Regions from separate parts of the Homo sapiens genome. Here regions 2 and 3 are each linked to region 1. Evidence: fine-mapped expression QTL. A gene starts in region 1. Each other region holds a variant in brackets. All regions are shown on one strand. Distances are between the middles of the regions.

Region 1 (6,280 bases):
AAATTCCTGACCTCGTGATCTGCCCGCCTTGGTCTCCCAAAGTGCTAGGATTATAGACGTGAGCCACCGCGCCCGGCCCCTTTTTCCTTTTTTTTTTTTTTTTTTTGAGATGGAGTCTCAGTCGGCCAGGCTGGAGTGCAGTGGCGCCATCTCAGCTCACTGCAACCTCCTCTGCCTCCCGGGTTCAAGCGATTCTCCTGCCTCAGCCTCCTGAGTAGCTGGAACTACAGGCGCGTGCCACCACGCCCGGCTAATTTTTTGTATTTTAAGTAGAGACGGGGTTGTGTTAGCCAGGATGGTCTCGATCTCCTGACCTCGTGATCCGCCCGCCTCCGCCTCCCAAAGTGCTGGGATTACAGGCGTGAGCCACCGCGCCCGGCCTCTCGTTTTCCGTTTTTAAGGAAGCTCCTACTGAGTAATGGTGAAGGGGAGAGAAGAGATCCCTGGGAAAACCTTATCAATCACCTGGGTTCTGAATATTCCCAGTGACTGCACTGAAGGTGACAACAGTCCAGAAATGTCGCCGCTGCGGTGAATCCATCCATCGCCCCTCGAAGCCTTGCCCTATCTTGGCTGTCATACCGTCTACGGCCAGCAGGGGGTAGCACAGATCCACCAATGTGTTAGTCCCAAGCTTCAGTCATCCCTTCTAGGATTTCCTCCTCTGTGGGCCAAGATGGGAAAGATACCTCCTGCCAAGCAAATGAAATTTACTACGTAATAATTGATTCCATCTTCTCATTTTTTTTGTAACTCACAGTTCTGATCAGCATGAGAGAGAGGGAGAATGAATATAGGCTTGCAGAAACAATAATTTTCCACAGAAGAGGTGTTACTTAGCCCAGCTTTATTCCACCAGGCCTTGGGTGAAGAGTGGCTGGCAATGGCTTGAGAAGCCCCCAGGATTGAAGATACAGTCTGATAACTACTGCATTCGTGGCTCCCCGCCTGGCTTGGGTTTCCAGCTGCAGGGCACGCTCCTACCCTTCTCTTTTCCTCTCACAGAAGTAGTTCTGGGCAAGAGGAAGCATGAACAGCTGGTCCCATAGGATGACTTGAAGCAGCCACTCTCCTAGAGAGGTTAAAAGTCTGTCCCTCGCTAGGCTGCAAGCAGCCCAAGGACCAAGGCATTTCTCATCTGCCACAGAATCTGCAGGACCAAGCACAGTGATGGGCATGTAGCTGATGCTAAGTAAAGGTTTATTGTTCAATTGAAAGAGACAGCCATTGAGGAATCAGGGAATCCATTCTTTAAAAAAATGTGTTTTTATTCATTAAAAAAAAAAGTCTTCCAGGCTGGACGGGGTGCCTCATGCCTGTAATCCCAGCACTTTGGGAGGCCGAGGCAGGCGGATCACTTGAGGTCAGGAGTTCGAGACCAGCTTGGTCAACATAGCAAAACCCCGTCTCTACTAAAAATACAAAAATGAGCTGGGTGTGGTGGCACGCACCTGTGGTCCCAGCTACTGAGGAGGCTGAGACTGGATAATTGCTTGGACCTGGGAGGTGGAGGTTGCAGTGAGCTGAGACCGAGCCACTGCACTCCAGCCTGGGCAACAGCGAGAGACTCCATCTTAAAAGAAAAAAAAAAGTCTTCCACGACAGTTATCTTATAGAGACAAGAAGAAGAAGAAAGAAGGAGAAGAAGAGGAGGAGGTCCTAGCTAATCTCAAGGGCAAGGACCCAAGGGCAAGGCTCTGGTCTGTCTGAGAAGGAGAATATGGCAGTGTGCAGGGAATGGATCATTTTCCCTGCATGCCCAAGGAGAATTCTGCTTTGACTCACCTTGGAGGTCCTTGGTCAGGCCACGAAACCAGTGATCACATCTCTCACCCATCTGGGGTGCTGGTGACCTTGGCAGAAGAAAGGCTTAAACCAGGTCAGCCTGGGGGAAGGGGCTGGCTCCTTCCAGGGTCTTCCTCCAGATTAGATGTTAACTCTCCGTCTCTTGCTTAAAGTCTTGTCAGTGGCTCTGAATGTGAGGGCAGAAGGAGGAGGATGCTGTCAGGGGAGGGGACACTAATGGCTCCTGACCTGGCCTAGAGATAATTCGGGGCTCCTTCAGCGGGCCCTCCCTCCTCAGTGCCCTGGAAGTGTAGGGAGGGGTCAGTTGGGGATCCCCACAAATTAAATGGGGAATGAGAGGAGCAACTGAAAGTCTCAAATTCAGGCTATAGATGGGACCCCAGCCCCCCATACTCTCCCGTCCTACATGAGATGGGCAGTGGAGGGCCAGGACAGCAACTCCAAGCCAGTGTAGGTTTTGGAGGTAGACAGTGAGGAGGCTTGCTTCTGTCCTTTGTTAGCTGAGTGCCCTTGGACAGCTTACTTACCTACTCTCAGCCTCAGTTTCCCCATCTCTAAAATAAGGCTACCAATACCTACCTTCTCTGGCCATTGTCAGGATGAATGAAAGAGCTCTGAAAGTATTTCTGTAATTAGCAGACATCAGAGATTGTTATTCTCCAAGGTAAGAGGCCCCCCTAGATCCCTGGCGGTGACAGTGTCAAGATTCTTTTTCCCTCCTCTGCGGTGCCCACTCCTTTTCCAGCCTTGTGGCTGGCTCTCATCCTCCTTTCCGCAACCCCCCACTCCTCCTTGGGACCACCTTGGCGGGCCCAGCTTCTCGCAGCCTGCCATATTCCATAGGTGCCCCCATTCTAAAACCTGTAGGGGTGCCCTGCACAGGCGCACGGTTGGTCGAGGTGGGACAGGTGGCGGGGGTCTCCACTGGCCTGCGTCCGCGCCCCCCACCCTGTTTAGGAGTTCCTGTTTGGAGATGGCTCCCCCTCGTCCTCAGCTCGTCTCTGGGCTAAGCAGGGGAGGAGAGAAATAAAAGGTGGGGGGCCTGGAAGGGGGTTCCCACCTTCTCAGTCCGGGACGCGAGACGGGAACGCAGCCCTGGCGCCCCAACGCTGCACCACCGTGGGTCTCCGAGCCGTGCTCGCAGTCGCTGAGATCCTCGGTGCGGAGAAGATGTGCCCCTCCAATCCCCAGGCCGTGATCCCCTTCACCCAGACCCGGCCAATCCCTCGCCCGAGGCGAGCGGGAGGATGCGGTTCTAGGACCCGGAGGCGCCGCCGAGCGCGCCGCCGCCTCGGCCTCGCCTCGGTGGCCTCCCGCTCCGGCAGGTGAAGCGGCGCCGGCCGCCCCCTCTGCGGCAGGTGAAGCGGCTCGGCAGCCCACTCCCCGCCCGCCATGGTTGCGGGGGTCCCCCGGCCAGCGCCCGCCCCCTCCCTCCAGCCCGCCCCCCTGGGGCTGGGTGCCCGGCGGCGGCGGCGGCGAACTGCGGTTTGCGCGCACGGGGAGCGACAGCAGAAGTTCGAAAATCGCCGAGGGGGGAGCCAGCGCCGCAGCTTCCTGCCCCCGGCCCAGCCCTCTGGCCCCGGCGGCCTGCAGCCTGACTTCCTCCCCCAACCCTGCAGCTCGCCGCCCGGTCCCACGGACGGGGCCGCCCCGATGGGACGCCGCGCTCCGGCCCCTGCGCGCCGCTGAGCCGAGCGCCCCCCGCTGCCGAGACCCCCGCCGCCACCGCCAGCCGCTGCCCCCTCGCCCCCGCCCGGGCCGGGAGCCTCGTCCCCGTCCCCCGGAAAGCTGGATTTCCGAGGCTGGAGGCGCCTGGCCGGCTGGGTGGGGACCACCATGGGCAACGCGGCCGGCAGCGCCGAGCAGCCCGCGGGCCCCGCCGCGCCGCCCCCCAAGCAGCCCGCGCCTCCCAAGCAGCCGATGCCCGCGGCCGGAGAGCTGGAGGAGAGGTTCAACCGCGCCCTGGTGAGTGCGACCCGGAGGCGGGTCGGGCGCGGGCGGGGGGCGGCAGGGGCGCGGCAGGGGCTGGGCGCGCGTCCCCGCCCCCGGGGACTCAGGTGCCGCTTGGAGATCCCCGGTCCGGCAGCTGCCCCCTCCAGGAGGTGGGAGCGACAGTGGCCTTTTTTTCAGAGTGACTTAGCACTCTCCCCCCAAAACTTTCTTCAGTTATCGCCCGGTCTCCCTCCCTAAGACGCCTCCACCCCAGCTGGGTCTTAAGGTCTAAACAAGTATGTCCTGTGAAGAAGTTGGGAGCGGGGCACGCACAGGGGTCCCGGGTCGCCCCCTTCCCCACTGCACGCAGGCCCAGCCACCGGGCGCGGGTCTGGGGCATCTGCCTTTCTGTGTCTGGAGTCAAAGATGAAAGGGTTACAACCTCCCGGGAGCGGGAGACCTGCTGGAGGTGTTGGGTCCTGATTTGTTGGGCGCCTGGGCTGCGGGGAATGGGGTTGTCGGATCATGGCCAGGAGGTATCTGTGTTTCTACCCCGCCATATGTCAGAGCCAGGGTGCCTGTGGGTCTTTATCTTGGGGCATCCTTTCCAAGCCACTGAAGGGAGTAAGATGAGGGAGGGTGGGGTCAGGACGGGTGGGTCGCCCAGGCTAGGGGTGGAGCAAAATCTGGAACCACCCCCCTCTGTGCCTACCTGGGGAATTGGAGCGGGGTCGCTGGGGAATAGGTCTCTGGGAGGGAACCAGCAGCTCAGGCCGAGCCTGGAAACAGTCAACATGTTCAGTGGGGTGGGGGCTCCAGAGCAGACTCAGGGGTCTCCAAGACCCTGCATAAGGCAGAAGTAGGGAGAGGAAGAGCTGCTCACTCTCACTCTCCCCACCCCCGACGCCCTGGCCCTGGCTCCCTCCTCTAACTAATTGCCTGGTGGCCTGCCTGCTGTCAGCCTTCCCTTGCTGGACGCTGGGTGACAGGCAAAATGAGGCTGTGCCTTCTCCCAGATGCATTTCCCAGTCCCTGCAGGTCTGAGGGTGGGGGCTCAACGGAGACACAGGCCGCAGAGGGTTCTGGCTCAGTTGGTGGCCCTCCATCTCCTTGACATCATTTCCCCTCGCCTGGCTGGTCATTAGGCCATACGTGCTAGATCCTCAGCATGGCTCCAGAGGGTCACCTCCTAACAGTTCCTGAAAATGTTGGCTTCTGTCCTCTCCCAAGAGAAGGCTGGGGGGAGTTTGGAGGAGCTATGGGGTGGCGAGGGATCCATCCTTGTGAAGACACCTTGCTTGATTAGAGGAGGGCAGGGACACTGAGGGACGCCTCACACCAGGCTGGCCCCTGACTTCTCCATCTCTCCACCTGCCCTGCTCCCCGCTCCCCAAGCATAGGACTTCACAAAGCTGAGCTGAGCTGAGCAGATGGGGGAGGGGGGAGAATGAGGAGACACAGTCTCTGGGGGCCATCTGGAGAGCCTGCATTGGTGGTGGGTCCTTGGACCCCTGCCAACCTGGTTGGAGGGACATGGGTCTGTCTTTCCGCCAAGTGTGTGTCTATGGTCGCGGGTGTGGGCTCTTGGGGTGAGGTCCTGACCCCAATCTTCTGTTTAGCACGCTGATGGGGAGGAGCCCTGTGAATAATTCAGACCAGGGGAAAATCCACAAGTCAAATGGTGAGGTTCTGATGTGTGTGTAGGACTTGTTTGCCCTGCTTGGATTTGTGGCTGTGATTGGCTGAGTCTGACACTAAATGCCACTGGGAGTCCCTGAGTACCAGGATGTGGAGGGGGGACACCCACAGGTGGGTCAGAGAGGGTGTGCTGGTGGAGAAAGTGGAGGTGCCTAGCAGAAATTTAGGGTAGCAGCACCCACCAGGGCTTACCCCCTACCAGGTGCCCAGGAACCCCAGTGTGTTTATACCTTCTTCCCGGGGTGGCTCAGCCTGTCTTATATCCTGTTGTGGGCAGGTTAAACCCAATCTAAGGACACTTGGCTAAGACCCTGGTTCCTCTCATTCCCCACCAGCAGGGGCATGAGGCTTGCCCCAGGGTGACAACCTTGACCTCTGCCTGAGGCTGCCCAGGGCTAAAGAGTTGGTTCAACCCTCAGGTCTGGCAGTGTGTATCGCAGAGTTGGTCGCTATGTGAACCCCCACCCGAACCACCATGGCCAGAGCTGAGTCCTGTCCTCGGTCAGTGTCTAAGAGGAGAAGAACCTTAGATTGCTGAGGGGAGGGGCCCACCGCCATCAGTGGTCCCCAGTCTCAATGGGAGAAGCACAGTCCTGCCCTCAGGGATGTAGTCCAGCGGCCCCAGGGAACCTCTTCCTTCCCCTTTTGTCCCTGGTGGGGCATAGGATCCTGATACCCCAAACTCTCCTTCCTCTCCTGGCTGTAGGACCTCTCTTGTGGGTGAGGGGTGTCCCCACTTACAGCCAGACAGGAGGTGCAGGGAGCCCTTCTCCCATGCAAGGGTGGGTGGTGGGGGGCTACCTTTCCAAGAAAGCTGTGAAAGAAAGGGGTGCCCCCTGCTTAA
Region 2 (6,280 bases), 54 kb after region 1:
ACAGAGTGAGACTCTGTCTCAATGAAAACAACAAAAAAATTTGTGATTCTCTCTCTGGGTAAGAGACATGGTGAGAATTCTGTTCTCTGCCTCTTTTATATGCTTAACTCTATACTTCACAGTGGGCATGGATTATTTCAATAATCAGAGGAGTTAAAGAAAGATATTTCACTGACTTTAGAGCCCAGGCCCCTTGGTCAGCCTGCCCACTGTGCTTCCAGCCAACCGTGCTCAGAGGCGCAGGAGAGCTGGGGTCACAGGCTGGCAGTGCACTCCCCTGCAAAGGCCAGACAAGAGGTAGGAGCCACGGGGACTCCAAGGCAGAAGGCCTGGGACCTACGGAGAGTCAACCAGCCTTTCCCTTCTCTTCCCTGTGTACAGGAGCATCGACAATGAGCACCTGACATCTATTATCACATTTACGCGTAACAAAGAAACCCCTGATAATCATCCAGGCTGGTTGCGGGGCTTAAACACACAGGTGGACCTAAGTGTTCACACCTCAATTCCCATTCTGGAAAGCATGGAAGGCATTTGGCGAATGAATGCATTGGGGGGCACGGCAGTTGGTGGGGGGCCTTACCTGTGAGCAAGGACTTTCCCAGGCCATCAGGTTGAAGACACACAGCATGGCCAAAGTCACAGAGGGCTGCGTGGCTCCCATCGCTGGACAGGAGCACGTTGTCAGCTGCCAGGCCGCCCCGGGGAGGAAGAGGAACAGGTGAGTCATGCCGGGTCCCAGCCCACCCTGGCTCGGTTTGGCCTGCCCTCCAGTGATGTAATTTTCTGGCTGACCCTACGTGGCAGCTGCTGCTTCTGATTAGTTTCATTAATCGTGGAGGAAGGGAGGAGGGTATCAATTCAGGCTAGAGGTAGGCAGGATCTCTGAGGGCAAAGGGACAGGAGCAGGGTTTACTCGGGAACGCTGCCACTCTGCTCGCCTGCGCCGACCCCATACCAGGGGTCACCAGTGGGTGGGAGCTTGACCTTCGGTTCTCTGTGGCCACCGTCTACCAGAAACTACAGTGCTTGGCTAAGGGGTTGGAGAACATCATTCCCCTTCCTACAGGCACAGTCCTGTCAGCCTGACTCAGGGCCTGCTACTGGGGATGACCAGGCTAGCCCAGAACTGAGAGGAGATCAGACAGGATGGTGTGAGAGAAGAGCCTGCTGGGGATCAGGGCCGTGGGGCCTGGGCCTTACCTTTGACGTCCCCATGCAGAATCCTTCGTGAGTGGAGGTATTCCAGACCCTCCAGGGCCTGGCCCAGGTAGTACAGGGCCCGGTCCTCTGGGAGACAGCCCTGCTCCTTGACCAGCTGGCCCAGGGAGCCACCTAGGAGACCAAAGGCCAGGCTATACATGGGACTTGCCCGAGCCTCCATGCCAGCCAAGGGCAAGAGCACAGGGCAGGCAGTGGAAAGCAGGGTCACAGGGTCAAGAGGTTAACAATGGATAGATCAGTGACCAAGGCCAACTTGGGCAAGACTCAGGGGGGAACTCTTGGCCCTGAATTTGGAGAAAGAGTGGGACCTGGCTCCTTACCTTCCAGCAGCTCCATGAAGATGTTGACCCAAGGCCCTTCTCTCACAGCTCCATACAAAGGGACAATTCTGGGTGAGGTCAATCCTGCACATGCCATCAGCTCCTCTGCCCGAAATACTTCCAGCCGCACCTGCAAGGGCCCAGAGGCAGCTGTTAAGACAGGGTGAGGGGACCAGAGCTGGGTCCCTGGCATCCTGTCAGCACCCTAGTGCTCCACACACAGAGGCTGCTGCTGTTTCCAGTGGTGATGCAGGGGCCTGGGGGGCCTGCTGGACCCTCAGAGGCTAAATTGTGTATCCCGTGCCCTTGGTATCAGGAGCAACTTCTTGTACTTAATTAAAGTTCTGGAGTGCTGCCTGTGTGCAAAAACAGCCACATAAAAACTACATCCGCACCGGGCGCAGTGGCTCATGCCTATAATCCCAGCACTTTGGGAGGCCGAGGCGGGTGGATCACGAGGTCAGGAGATCGAGACCATCCTGGCTAACACAGTGAAACCCCGTCTCTACTAAAAAATACAAAAAAATTAGCTGGGCGTGGCGGCGGGTGCCTGTAGTCCCAGCTACTCGGGAGGCTGAGGCAGGAGAATGGCGTGAACCCAGGAGGCGGAGCTTGCAGTGAGCTGAGATTGCGCCAGTGCACTCCAGCCTGGGCAACAAAGTGAGACTCCGTCTCAAAAAAAAAAAATTAAAAAAACAAAACAAAACACTACATTCCAGCCGGGCGCGGTGGCTCATGGCTGTAATCTCAGCACTTTGGGAGGCTGAGGCGGGTGGATCAAGGAGATCGAGGTCGGGAGATCAAGACCATCTTGGCCAACATGGCGAAACCCTGTCTCTACTAAAAATACAAAAATTAGCTGGGTGTGGTGGCACGTGGCTGTAATCCCAGCTACTTGGGAGGCTGAGGCAGGAGAATCACTTGAACCTGGGAGTCGGAGGTTGCAATGAGCCAAGGTCGCAATAAGCCGAGGTCGCACCACTGCGCTCCAGTCTGGCGACAGAGTGAGACTCCATCTCAAAAAAAAAAAACAAAAAAAAACCCACAAAAAAACAAACAAAAAAACAAAAAACCCCCTACATTCGTCATCCTGGCTGCTGGCACGCTGTCCGCCCTCAAATCTGCCAAACGCAGAACATTTTTTCCTCCAGCTAAATTTCTGGGCAATTTCTAGGATGTGGGACCTTTTGCTTATCAACATCCATGTCTACTCTCAGAAGCTGGGTTTTTGACTTATCTGACTGTCAAGAACCAAGATTTGGACTCCATCGGGTGCATTTTTTTTTCTTTTCTTTTCTTTTTTTTTTTTTTTTTTGAGACAGAGGTCTTGCTCTGTCGCCCAGGCTGGAGTACAGTGACGTGATCTCTATTCATTGCAACCTCTGCCTCCCGGGTTCAAGCAATTCTCCTGCCTCAGCCTCCCGAGTAGCTGGGACTACAAGTGTGCGCCACCAGGCCCAGATAATTTTTGTATTTTTTAGTAGAGACGGGGTTTCACCATGCTGGCCAGGCTGGTCTCAAACTCCTAACCTTGTGATTTGCCTGCGTTGGCCTCCCAAAGTGCTAGGATTACAGGCGTGAGCCACCATGCCCGGCCTCAACACTTTTCTTTCCCGGAGGACTAAAACATCCACATAGACAGAGCAGTGTTTATTCTGTTTGCAGCTGTCTCCCAGCATCTGGGAACTTAAGGAGGCTTCTGAGGAGGCTTCTGGGGAGTGGCCAAGGCCACTCCCACTG[C/A]CAAATGGCAGGTCCGGGATCATCCACTCCTTTCTGCAGGGACCAGCAACTTGGTGGGAGGAAATAGGCCTTGGATATAAACATCTTGGGCTTAGATCCTGGCTCCGCCTTTTAAAACAAGGCAGCAGACTTCCCATCCACATATTTCCACATGCAAACAGCAGGGACGGTGGTATCTGCTCCTGGGTAGAGCAAGGATTTGGAAGGATGGTAACTGACACCAGGCCTGGCAACCAGTGGGCACTCAGGAAGTGCTAGCTCCCCAATTCCTCCAGCTCACATCAGAGAAGCTGATACTTAGACTGACTTAGACCTTTTTTTTTTTTGAGACAGAGTCTCGCTGTGTCGCCCAGGCTGGAGTGCAGTGGCGCAATCTCAGCTAATTACAACCTCCGCCTCCTGGGTTCAAGCAATTCTCCTGCCTCAGCCTCCCCAGTAGCTGGGATTACAGGCACCTGCCACTATGCACAGCTAATTTTTCATATTTTTAGTAGAGGCAGGGTTTCACCATGTTGGTCAGGCTGGTCTTAAACTCCTGACCTCAGGTGATCCGCCTACCTTGGCCTCCCAAAGTGCTGGGATTACAGGCGTGAGCCACTGTGCCCGGCCTCTTAGACTTCTTTTTTTTTTTTTTTTTTTTTTTGAGACAGAGTCTCGCTCTGTCACCAGGCTGGAGTGCAGTGGTGTGATATCTCAGCTCACTGCAACCTCCGCCTCCTGGGTTCAAGCGATTCTTGTGCCTCAGCCTCCTGAGTAGCTGGGATTACAGGCACGTGCCACCACATCCAGCTAATTTTTGTATTTTTAGTAGAGACAGAGTTTCACCACGTTGGCCAGGCTGGTCTTGAACTCCTGGCCTCATGATCCGCCCACCTCAGCCTCCCAAAGTGCTGGGATTACAGGCGTGAGCCACTGCGCACGGCCTCTTAGGCTTCTTCTTCTTTTTTTTAATTTTATTTATTATTATACTTTAAGTTTTAGGGTACATGTGCACAATGTGCAGGTTTGTTACATATGTATACATGTGCCATGTTGGTGTGCTGCACCCATTAACTTGTCATTTAGCATTAGGTATATCTCCTAATGCTATTCCTCCCCCCTCCCCGCTTAGTAGACTTGTCCTCCTTCCTAGCTGCTGATGGTTCTCAAGTAAGCCTTGAGTAGCATCGCCAGGGGGCGCTGGCAGTAACAGAACCAGCTTGGAAGCGATCTTCACAGACTTGCTGACTTGGCAAACAGCCCTGACACTGTGGGGTTTTTGGACTTTTGCCTATCAGTGGAAAATGTCGCCCTTCTGGTTCCCTAATATCTGGTTTGGTTAATCACCTCCCATGAACTTTGACTCTGCCAGTGTTTCCAGCTCTAAAAAGCCTCTGAACCTGAGTTGGAACTAATTCAACAACAGGACTTGTTAGCAAATGTCTTCAGCCTAACCACCCCCAAACTGAGCTGAGGCACCCCGGGGCACTGCAGATAACTCAGAAGGGCGCCAAATGGATATCTGACATTTGAGGGAAACGGCCACCGCAGTATCTGCAGGACACCGCGTGAACTACTCGCTCGAGACAGTTCAGCTTCAAAGTACGATCACGCACGTGACATTCCCTTTGATAATGTATCTCTATGAAGCTATGTTTTTGCAGGTCACTGTGATTAAAAGTACTTCAAGGAGAAAATGTGGGATATGAAGGTGGTGGTGTCCTATCTGATTTCAAGGGTTGAGATGTGCAACAAGGCATACATCCCGTTAATAATCTGGCGGTTTGGAAATGGAAGGACCCTTTTTCTTTCAACTTATGTCACGCTTTTCAAATGGCTACTAAGTTGTTAGGATAAAGACTTATTATTCGACCTCACTGCTTCATAAACAGAACTGTTGGGTATTTGTTTTGGCCTGGGTTGCCCTGAAACAATGACTGAGATATTAACAGGGCTGTGATCCAAAAGAGTTGGGGAAACTTGGCTTTAACTTTGCAGAAATCTGTAAGTCCTCTTAGAGTGTCCCGTCCATGCTAAAAATATTTCCAACCACCCAGACCAAAGAGGTGGGAGGAGATACTTCAAAATACAAGGTGCTTTAGAAGTCGGTGCCAGAGGAGAAAGCAGCCCAGCCTTCCAGGCCAAGCTGGCTGCCCGTCTGGCCACCCCTCCTCTCTGAACTTCCGTGTTCCTCATCCGTAAAATGAGGGGGCTGGACTGCGATGAGGATATTCATGAGAACTAAGATCTAATGCCCACTTATCATTTCCCAGGCACCGGTAAAGCCCTTTCTAAGCATTAGTTATTCAGATCTTACAATAGCCTGTAAGCTGGTGGGATCATTATCCCCATTTTATAGATGAAGAAGCTGAAGCCTGGGCAAGTAATTTGCCCAAGGTCACTGGGTATAAGAGATCACAGCAGCGCTTTTACTCGGGCAAGCCTGACTCCAGAGCTGCCAGCTACTCTGCCTCCTGAAGGCCTTTCCATGCTGAACTTTTTTTTTTTTTTTTTGAGACAAGGTCTCCCTTGGTTGGCCAGGCTGGAGTGCAGTGGCACAATCACAGCTCACTGCAGCCTCGACCTTCCCGGGCTCAAGCGATCCTCCCATCTCAGCCTCCCAAGTAGCTGAGACTATAGGTGCCATGCCCAGCTAATTTTTGTAGAGATGGGGTTTCGCCATATTGCCCAGGCTAGTCTTGAACTCCTAGGCTCAAGTGATTCTCCCACCTCGGCCTCCAACATGTTGAGATTACAAGTGTGAGCCACTGTGCCTGGCATCCATGCTAATGTTTTAAAATACACTTAGGACTGAGCATCCCCAGGTGGAAGCACTGTCAGCAATGAGCCTACTGCCTGATACAGAAGCCACTTCCTTCCCCTCAATTGCCTGCACACTGAACACTGGGGATCACTTTTTCCTCCTTGAACTTCCCTCTTGTTTTCTTTGGTATTCTTTTTTTTGAAACGGAGTTTCGCTCTTGTTGCCCGGGCTGGAGTGCAATGGCGTGATCTCG
Region 3 (6,280 bases), 35 kb after region 1:
CCAGACTGGTCTCGAACTCCTGACCTCAAGTGATCTGCTGGCCTCTGCCTCCCAAAGTGCTGGGATTACAGGCGTGAGACACCACACCCGGCTTTGTGTGCATGTTTGGTACATGCGACTGTCACAGGCACATGTGTACATGGGCATGTGTGGCATGTGCTGCTTCCTCTGTGTGTGGGTGCTGTATGTGTGATGTGCCGGGCAGCTGGTGGTGTCTGTGTGCACATGTCTGGGTGATCTATGGCTCTCCTGCATTTGGAGGTACGTCTAGCTCCAGCCTGTGACCCTCTGGAGGACCAGTTCTTCGGCCTCATTTTCCTCCCCTTCAAGCTCCTGGACACCATCCCTTCCCCATGCCAGCTCTTCCCCATGAAGAGCGCAGGAAGAACCCCCTCAGACCCACTTTCTCACCTGCCCAGTCCACGCCCAGAAGGCCATCTCCTCAGATGATCCCAACACATCCCTGGCCTCAGGCCAAGAGGAAGCCTCATTTCACAGTCTAAGAAATGGAAGCCTCACAGGACACCGAGGTCTCCCCAAGACCAGCCACAAGTCTTTCTGCTGGCCTAGAGGGCTGGCCAGGAGGGAGTGAAGGGAATTGACCCTGGGGAGTGGGCAGGTGAGAGATGGGTGGCCAGGACAAGGGTGGCATTGCCCTCTGGGGGCAGGTGGAGCTGGGGCAGCTAAAAAATGGGGTGGCATCCCTAAAAAACAGACGAGGACACAGCAGCCAGGAGGGCTCCCTGGCCCAGGGGCATTTGCACAAAAGTCTAAGCCGACGGCCAGCACTGGAGGCTTTATTGGTTCTGTCTAGTCATTTCTCTGGGATTGTGGGGGCTGACAGCTTAAAATGGATTTTCACCAATAATGGATTCTCTTTCTCTTTTCCTGGCGGCACTGAGCTGCAACACAAAAGAGAGAGTGTCACTTGGGCCCCAGAGGGTGGTTGAAGGAGAGGGGTGAGCCCAGAGGCCCCTCTGAAGAGGTCGCTGGGGGTAAGGGGTCTTCTGCTGCTGCCCGCGTCTGGGCAGCTGAGATTACATTCTGTGTCCATTCACTACCAGAAAGCAAGGTGTACTGGAGAGCCCTGCACCCTCATTCTCCCCTCAAGAAAAGTGTCCTGGACCCCAGGGTTGGGGCCAACAGGCTTTCAACAGGGCAGACCCCAGCCTGAGCATTCCCAACCTTGGTGAGGCCCGACCCCCAGGGTGGAAAGCCGCCTAATGCCAGTGTGGTCCTTCCCATTTTGAACCCAGGCCCCTGTGCCCACCCTCCTTGGTCCCCAGGCCTCCTCCAGCCCTCGCCTTGGCTCTGCGCCTCAGTCCACTGGAACCTCGTTCCAACAGCCTTTATGAGGTCACTGAGGTGGAGGCGTCACAGCCCACCACATCCTGCTCCCAGGCCCTCATTCCACTGTTCCCCACCCCTACCCAGCTGTGTGAGGACCCCTGCCACGTTCTAGCACAGCCCCTCTATGGGAGCTGCGGGGCTGGCCTCACTCACTCTTCCTTGCTTCCCTGCAGCAGAGGGGACGTGGCTGGTGGCTGGAGAAGCTGGATTTGCCCTTTGATGGTGGCCCTCTTGATCCCCGGCTTGCTGAAGTCAAAGTAAGATTGAGCGAAGTTCTTGTCTTCCTGACTCCAAGATTTCAGTGGTGCTCTGGCTTCGCGTGGTTTCTCTGGCAGGGTCTCTGCGTGATTTTCTGGCTCTCGCTCCTCCACAGTGGTCAGGAGGGGCTCTGTGGAAGGCTCCAGAGCCTCCTGGGGTGGAGCTTTCATCATGTGTTCCAAACTGGGCAGGTCCATCCTGCTGGAGGAGGCCATGGCCAGGGAAGATGCAAAGGTGATTAGCTCTGTCAGGTCAATGGGTGGCGGGAGATCTGAGGACAGGAGGGGGCTTGGTGCCTGGGAGCTTGTGGTTGGAGGAGCTGAGTGGGCATCAGGGATCTGGAGCTGCTCCTCGGAGCACAGGGCGTTGGTGGGGATGGCCTCCCGGAGCGGGGATCTGATGGGCTGGCCTGCGCTGCCATTGTTGAGCTGCATGTTGATGGCCCGCTGCAGGCTGTGCTCTGAGGCCTGGATGAGCTTGTTTGCCCAGAAGAGGTGCTTGGAGGTCTGCGCACTGATGGAGTGATGGCAGGCAGACACGTGGTTCTCCTCCGTGAAACTCCGGCAGTTTGAATTCAGACTCCACGGTCTGAAGGTCTGTGGCGTGGGCAGCCCCATGTTGGAGTGGACGGACTCTATCTTGCATACCAGCTGCATGGGTTCTTCAAAGTCAGACTCCTCGTTCGAGTTGGCTTCCGTGTCCAGCTCAGCTTCAAGCTTGAGGGCTGGGTATAGCTCTGACTCCAGTAAAGCCGGCACCTGTCCGATCTCCAGTTCTGGGTCTGGGTCTGGGTCTGGGTCCAGGTCCAGGTCCACTTGGAGTTGGGGCTTCTGCTCTAGCATGTCTGCCTCCAGCTGAAATGTTTCAACTCAAAGCTGAGGAGGCAGGAGCGGGAGGTCCTGCCCCTGAGGCCCTCCCTGGCACCGAGTCCCTGCCCCACCCCTGCCCTGGGTCCTGCTGTCTTCCCCCCGCCCCCTAACCCCATGCCTGCCTCCTCTCAGAGACCTGCCCGGTGAGGGGGTGTGTGTGTGGGTGTACCCACACCGGCCTGGTACTAGGGTCCCAGGATTGTCAAGGGTAGGGGCTGGTGGGGACTTAGGGAAGAGCCCTGCCGCTTGCCTACCACCTCCCCGTAAGAGGACACTCCCATTTTTACCTCCTGTTCCTCTTGTATCTGGTGTTGACTTAAGTCATCTCTAAGACAGAAGAAGACAGAGTGGGTGATGGGGATCTGTGGGGCTTCAGCGGGAAGGGGGTTTCTGGGGCCCTCAAAGCCCTCTGCCTTGTAACAGAAGCTGGCACGATGCACCTCCCGCCGACCACCCCGCCACCAGCTCATCCACTCCCCTGCTGTCCCACTCCACTGCCACCAGGAAGTCTGCGGTTGTATTCTGAAACTTTAGTGAGTTTAGGAAGCTGCTTGCCAACTCATGCCCCACCCCCAAAGAGGAATCCAGTTGGTTGGAGGTAAGGCCCAGGAATCTCATTTTTATCAAGCACTGCAGGTGAGCTGGGGCAACTCACTTCGAGGATTAGTGCCCAGAACACTAGTCCCCAGCAGGGGAGCCCCAGAGCAATGTCCTCCCACCCACCTGCCCACTCTTTCTTCAAGTGCCTGCCCACCCCCGCCTTGAGCAGCTCTGTCCTCAGCAAGCCAGGCAGCTCTGAGGGGTCAGGTCCTATCCTGTCCCTGGGTGTGCCCCACCACCCCTCAGTCTTCCTCTCATGCCAGGGGCTGAGGGCATAAACAGAAGTGGGAGGATAGGCGCCCCACGCCCTCCCCAGCCTTTTGGCCTGGACACTGGCCCCGGGGAGGTTTTGGAAATGGCAGAAGGGAGGGAGATCCTAGGCTGGGGGATCCTAGGCTGGGGGTGAGGTCGGAGGTCCTGGAGGGCTCGGGGGAGGCCCTACGTTGATTGAGGATGGTTCTCACCGCATCTCTGCAACCTCCACTGACCCTTTGCCGCAGCATGGAAATCCATGGGCACCTGACAGGGGAAAGGAGGTGAGGGCAGGGAGCTGCAGGGTAGAGGACAGTCCCAGAGGGATTCCGGAGCCAGCCCCCT[T/C]TTCCTGCCCTTCTTTTCTCTCTTCCCGGCTGCTATTCCCCCTCACCGTCCTGCCCCGCTCTCCTTGTTCCCGAGCCGGTCGCCATTCCTATCCTCCAGTCCTGCTCCCTCCACTCTCCGTCTGTGCCTTGCCTCCTCGGAGGCTCCCGGTTCCATCTCCATCCCCCAAAACCGTGACTGCTAACAGTACCCTGAACATGACAGAGCGCTTCCATAGCCTGGTCACTTTACCTGCTTTATCTCACTGATTCAACACAAAAAATTAGGACAGGTCCATTTGCCCAAGGTCCCCCAGCTGAACATAGCTGAAGTGATGACTTGAATGCAGGCTTGACTCAGGAAACTCTTAACTCCCTGCCCCCACCGGCTACTCCCAGGACCCTGTAACTGCGTGGAGTCCCAATAACGCCCCATGTGAACCTCCCCCATCTCCCCATTCCTGCTCCTCTGCCGGCTTCCTCTCCTCTCTCTGGGTCATCCATCACTGACTCCAGGCCAAGGCCTGCACCCCAGGTGTGTAATCTGAGGTGGTGCTAGCACCTATCCGACGATTTATGAGCTCAGATCACCCTCTGCAGGGGAGACTGACTCCTTGGGAACGTCCGCAACCCCAAACCCCTCCCTGGAGGCTTGTATCTTTTACTGCAGAAGCTGTTTCTTCACCCTGTGGGAGTGGGAAGCACCAGGCTGCCCTGTTCTCTGCTACCCAGGGCCATGCATAGGGGTTGATGGTGGGGCCATCATGACAACCCTGCCATCATGCAAGGTGGGTCCCCATCAGCCTGGGGTATGGCAGGAAGTGACAGCCCTGGCTCTGGCTGGGAAGAATCGCTCCCAGGATCATATTGGAAGGATGAGAATGTACTGCGGTCTCTTCCTAGAGATGTAGTGGCTGGAGGGAGGGGTCCTTGCATGGCTGGTCTTGGGATTGGGACCATCTGCTTCAGCCTGGTCTTGGGGGATGTATCAGCAGAGTGGCCGGCTCAATGATCTCTTCAGAACCCTCCACCTCCTTGACCACTATGCTTCCCTGGCTTCCTCACGTGTCTCTCTTCTCCCTCTCCAACTCCCCCTGTCCCAGGTCCTGCTGTTCCCCCAGGCTTCTGACCTCAGGGCCTTTGCTCCCTTTACAGAATTTCCCTGGGCAGTTTAATCAACACCCACAGCCTCAACCCCTCCATAAACGGCAGCTGGGTATGGACAGGAGAAGAAATTACTGTTGTGTGAGCCTCTTAACAGCACTGGGGGCTGGGAGAAAAAGTCAGACATTGACTCAGCTTGGGACCTCGTTGCCTGACTTGAGAATGTTCTATTAGGGATTCAAGTGATATTCTGCAGTATATGAAATAATTGAAATAATTTTTTTTGAGGCAGGGTCTCACTCTGTCACCCACGCTGGAGTGTAGTGGTGTGATCTCGGCTCACTGTAACCTCCGCCTCCTGAGATCAAGCGATTCTCCTGACTCAGCCTCCTGAGCAGCTGGGATTATAGGCATGCGCCACGACGCCCAGCTCACTTTTTGTATTTTTAGTAGAGATGGGGTTTCACCATTTTGGCCAGGCTGATCTCAAACTCCTGGCCTCAAATGATCTGCCTGCCTCGGCCTCCCAAAGTGCTGGGATTACAGGCATGAGCCACCGTGCCTGGCCGAAATAATTTCAATTTCCAGTGGTTTGTTGCTAGTATACAGAAATATATCCATCTTTTGTATCCTGCAACTATACTAAAATCTTATTTGTTCTCATAGCTTTTTTTTTCTTTTAGATTCTATCGGATTTTCTACATAGACAATAATGTGTGTGAGTCAAGACACTTTTACTTCTTCCCTCCCAATCTGGTTCCTCTTATTTTCTTTACTTGCCTAATTGCACTGGGGACAATCTCCATACAATGTTGAGTAGGAGTGCGTGTGTACATCCTCGCTTCGTTCTGAGCTTAGGGGAAAGTGTTTAGCCTTTCACCATTAAGGATGATGCTAGCTGTAGGTTTCTTCATGATGCCTTTCATTAGCTTGGGCATCTTTGTGAAGTTTCGTCTCTTAGATTGCTTAGTTTTAATTAGGAATGGATGCTGGATTTTGCCTAATGCTTTTTCTGCATTTATTGAGATGATCATATGGTTTTTCTTTAATATGATATTATATATGTTATACATAACATACGTTATAATACATTAACATATGAGTAATGTTATATTATTTGAGTGATAATTCTTTTATATTTTTATATTCTGTTTATGGTAAAATACATTGTTTTTTTTGAGACAGGGTCTCACTCTGTTGCCCAGGCTGGAGTTCAGTGGCGCAATTTCAGCAACCTCAACCTCCCTGTCTCAAGTGATCCTTCCACCTCACCTCTGGAGTAGCTGGGACTACACGTGTTCACCACCACCCCCAGCTAATTTTTGTATTTTTTGTAGAGATGGGTCTTGTTATATTGCCCAGGCTGGTCTTGAACTCCTGGGCTCAAGCTATCCACCTGCCGTGGCCTCCCAAAGTGCTAGATTATAGGTGTGAGCTACCATGCCCAGCTATAAATTTATTTTTTAAAATGTTAAATCAGCCTTGCGTTACTGGGATAAACCTCATTTGGTTGTGATATATTAC

Evidence for each region. PIP is the estimated chance that this variant, and not a neighbour inherited with it, causes the effect. A credible set is the group of variants that fine-mapping cannot tell apart.
Region 2: its variant is the best candidate, but not a certain one, in a credible set for the expression of FMNL1-DT in whole blood (TOPMed, PIP 0.58).
Region 3: its variant is the best candidate, but not a certain one, in a credible set for the expression of FMNL1-DT in whole blood (INTERVAL, PIP 0.64).

Annotation. Positions count from the first base shown.
Region 1 is chr17:45,218,483-45,224,762 of GRCh38, forward strand. It overlaps FMNL1-DT (FMNL1 divergent transcript), which reads right to left and starts at 3,283. Exons shown (of 3, transcript NR_147507.1): 1 at 2,867-3,283; 2 at 1,786-1,972. FMNL1 (formin like 1) reads left to right here and starts at 3,403. Exons shown (of 27, transcript NM_005892.4): 1 at 3,403-3,771. The coding sequence starts at 3,643. RefSeq lists silencers at 2,978-3,427, 3,438-3,487, 3,768-3,877, 3,800-4,094 and enhancers at 3,941-4,441, 4,442-4,942, 5,278-5,347, 5,948-5,997.
Region 2 is chr17:45,272,920-45,279,199 of GRCh38, forward strand. MAP3K14 (mitogen-activated protein kinase kinase kinase 14) reads right to left here. Exons shown (of 16, transcript NM_003954.5): 7 at 1,545-1,674; 8 at 1,204-1,335; 9 at 584-688. Among named protein-coding and RNA genes, the nearest start is that of SPATA32, 14 kb to the left of the region's middle. RefSeq lists an enhancer at 74-1,048. The variant C/A (reference allele first, on the strand shown) is at 3,285.
Region 3 is chr17:45,253,612-45,259,891 of GRCh38, forward strand. It overlaps SPATA32 (spermatogenesis associated 32), which reads right to left. Exons shown (of 5, transcript NM_152343.3): 2 at 3,542-3,596; 3 at 2,765-2,804; 4 at 1,504-2,462; 5 at 782-902. The coding sequence ends at 815. MAP3K14-AS1 (MAP3K14 antisense RNA 1) reads left to right here. Exons shown (of 4, transcript NR_110326.1): 2 at 1,524-1,607. Among named protein-coding and RNA genes, the nearest start is that of SPATA32, 5.3 kb to the right of the region's middle. RefSeq lists an enhancer at 2,291-3,051. The variant T/C (reference allele first, on the strand shown) is at 3,675.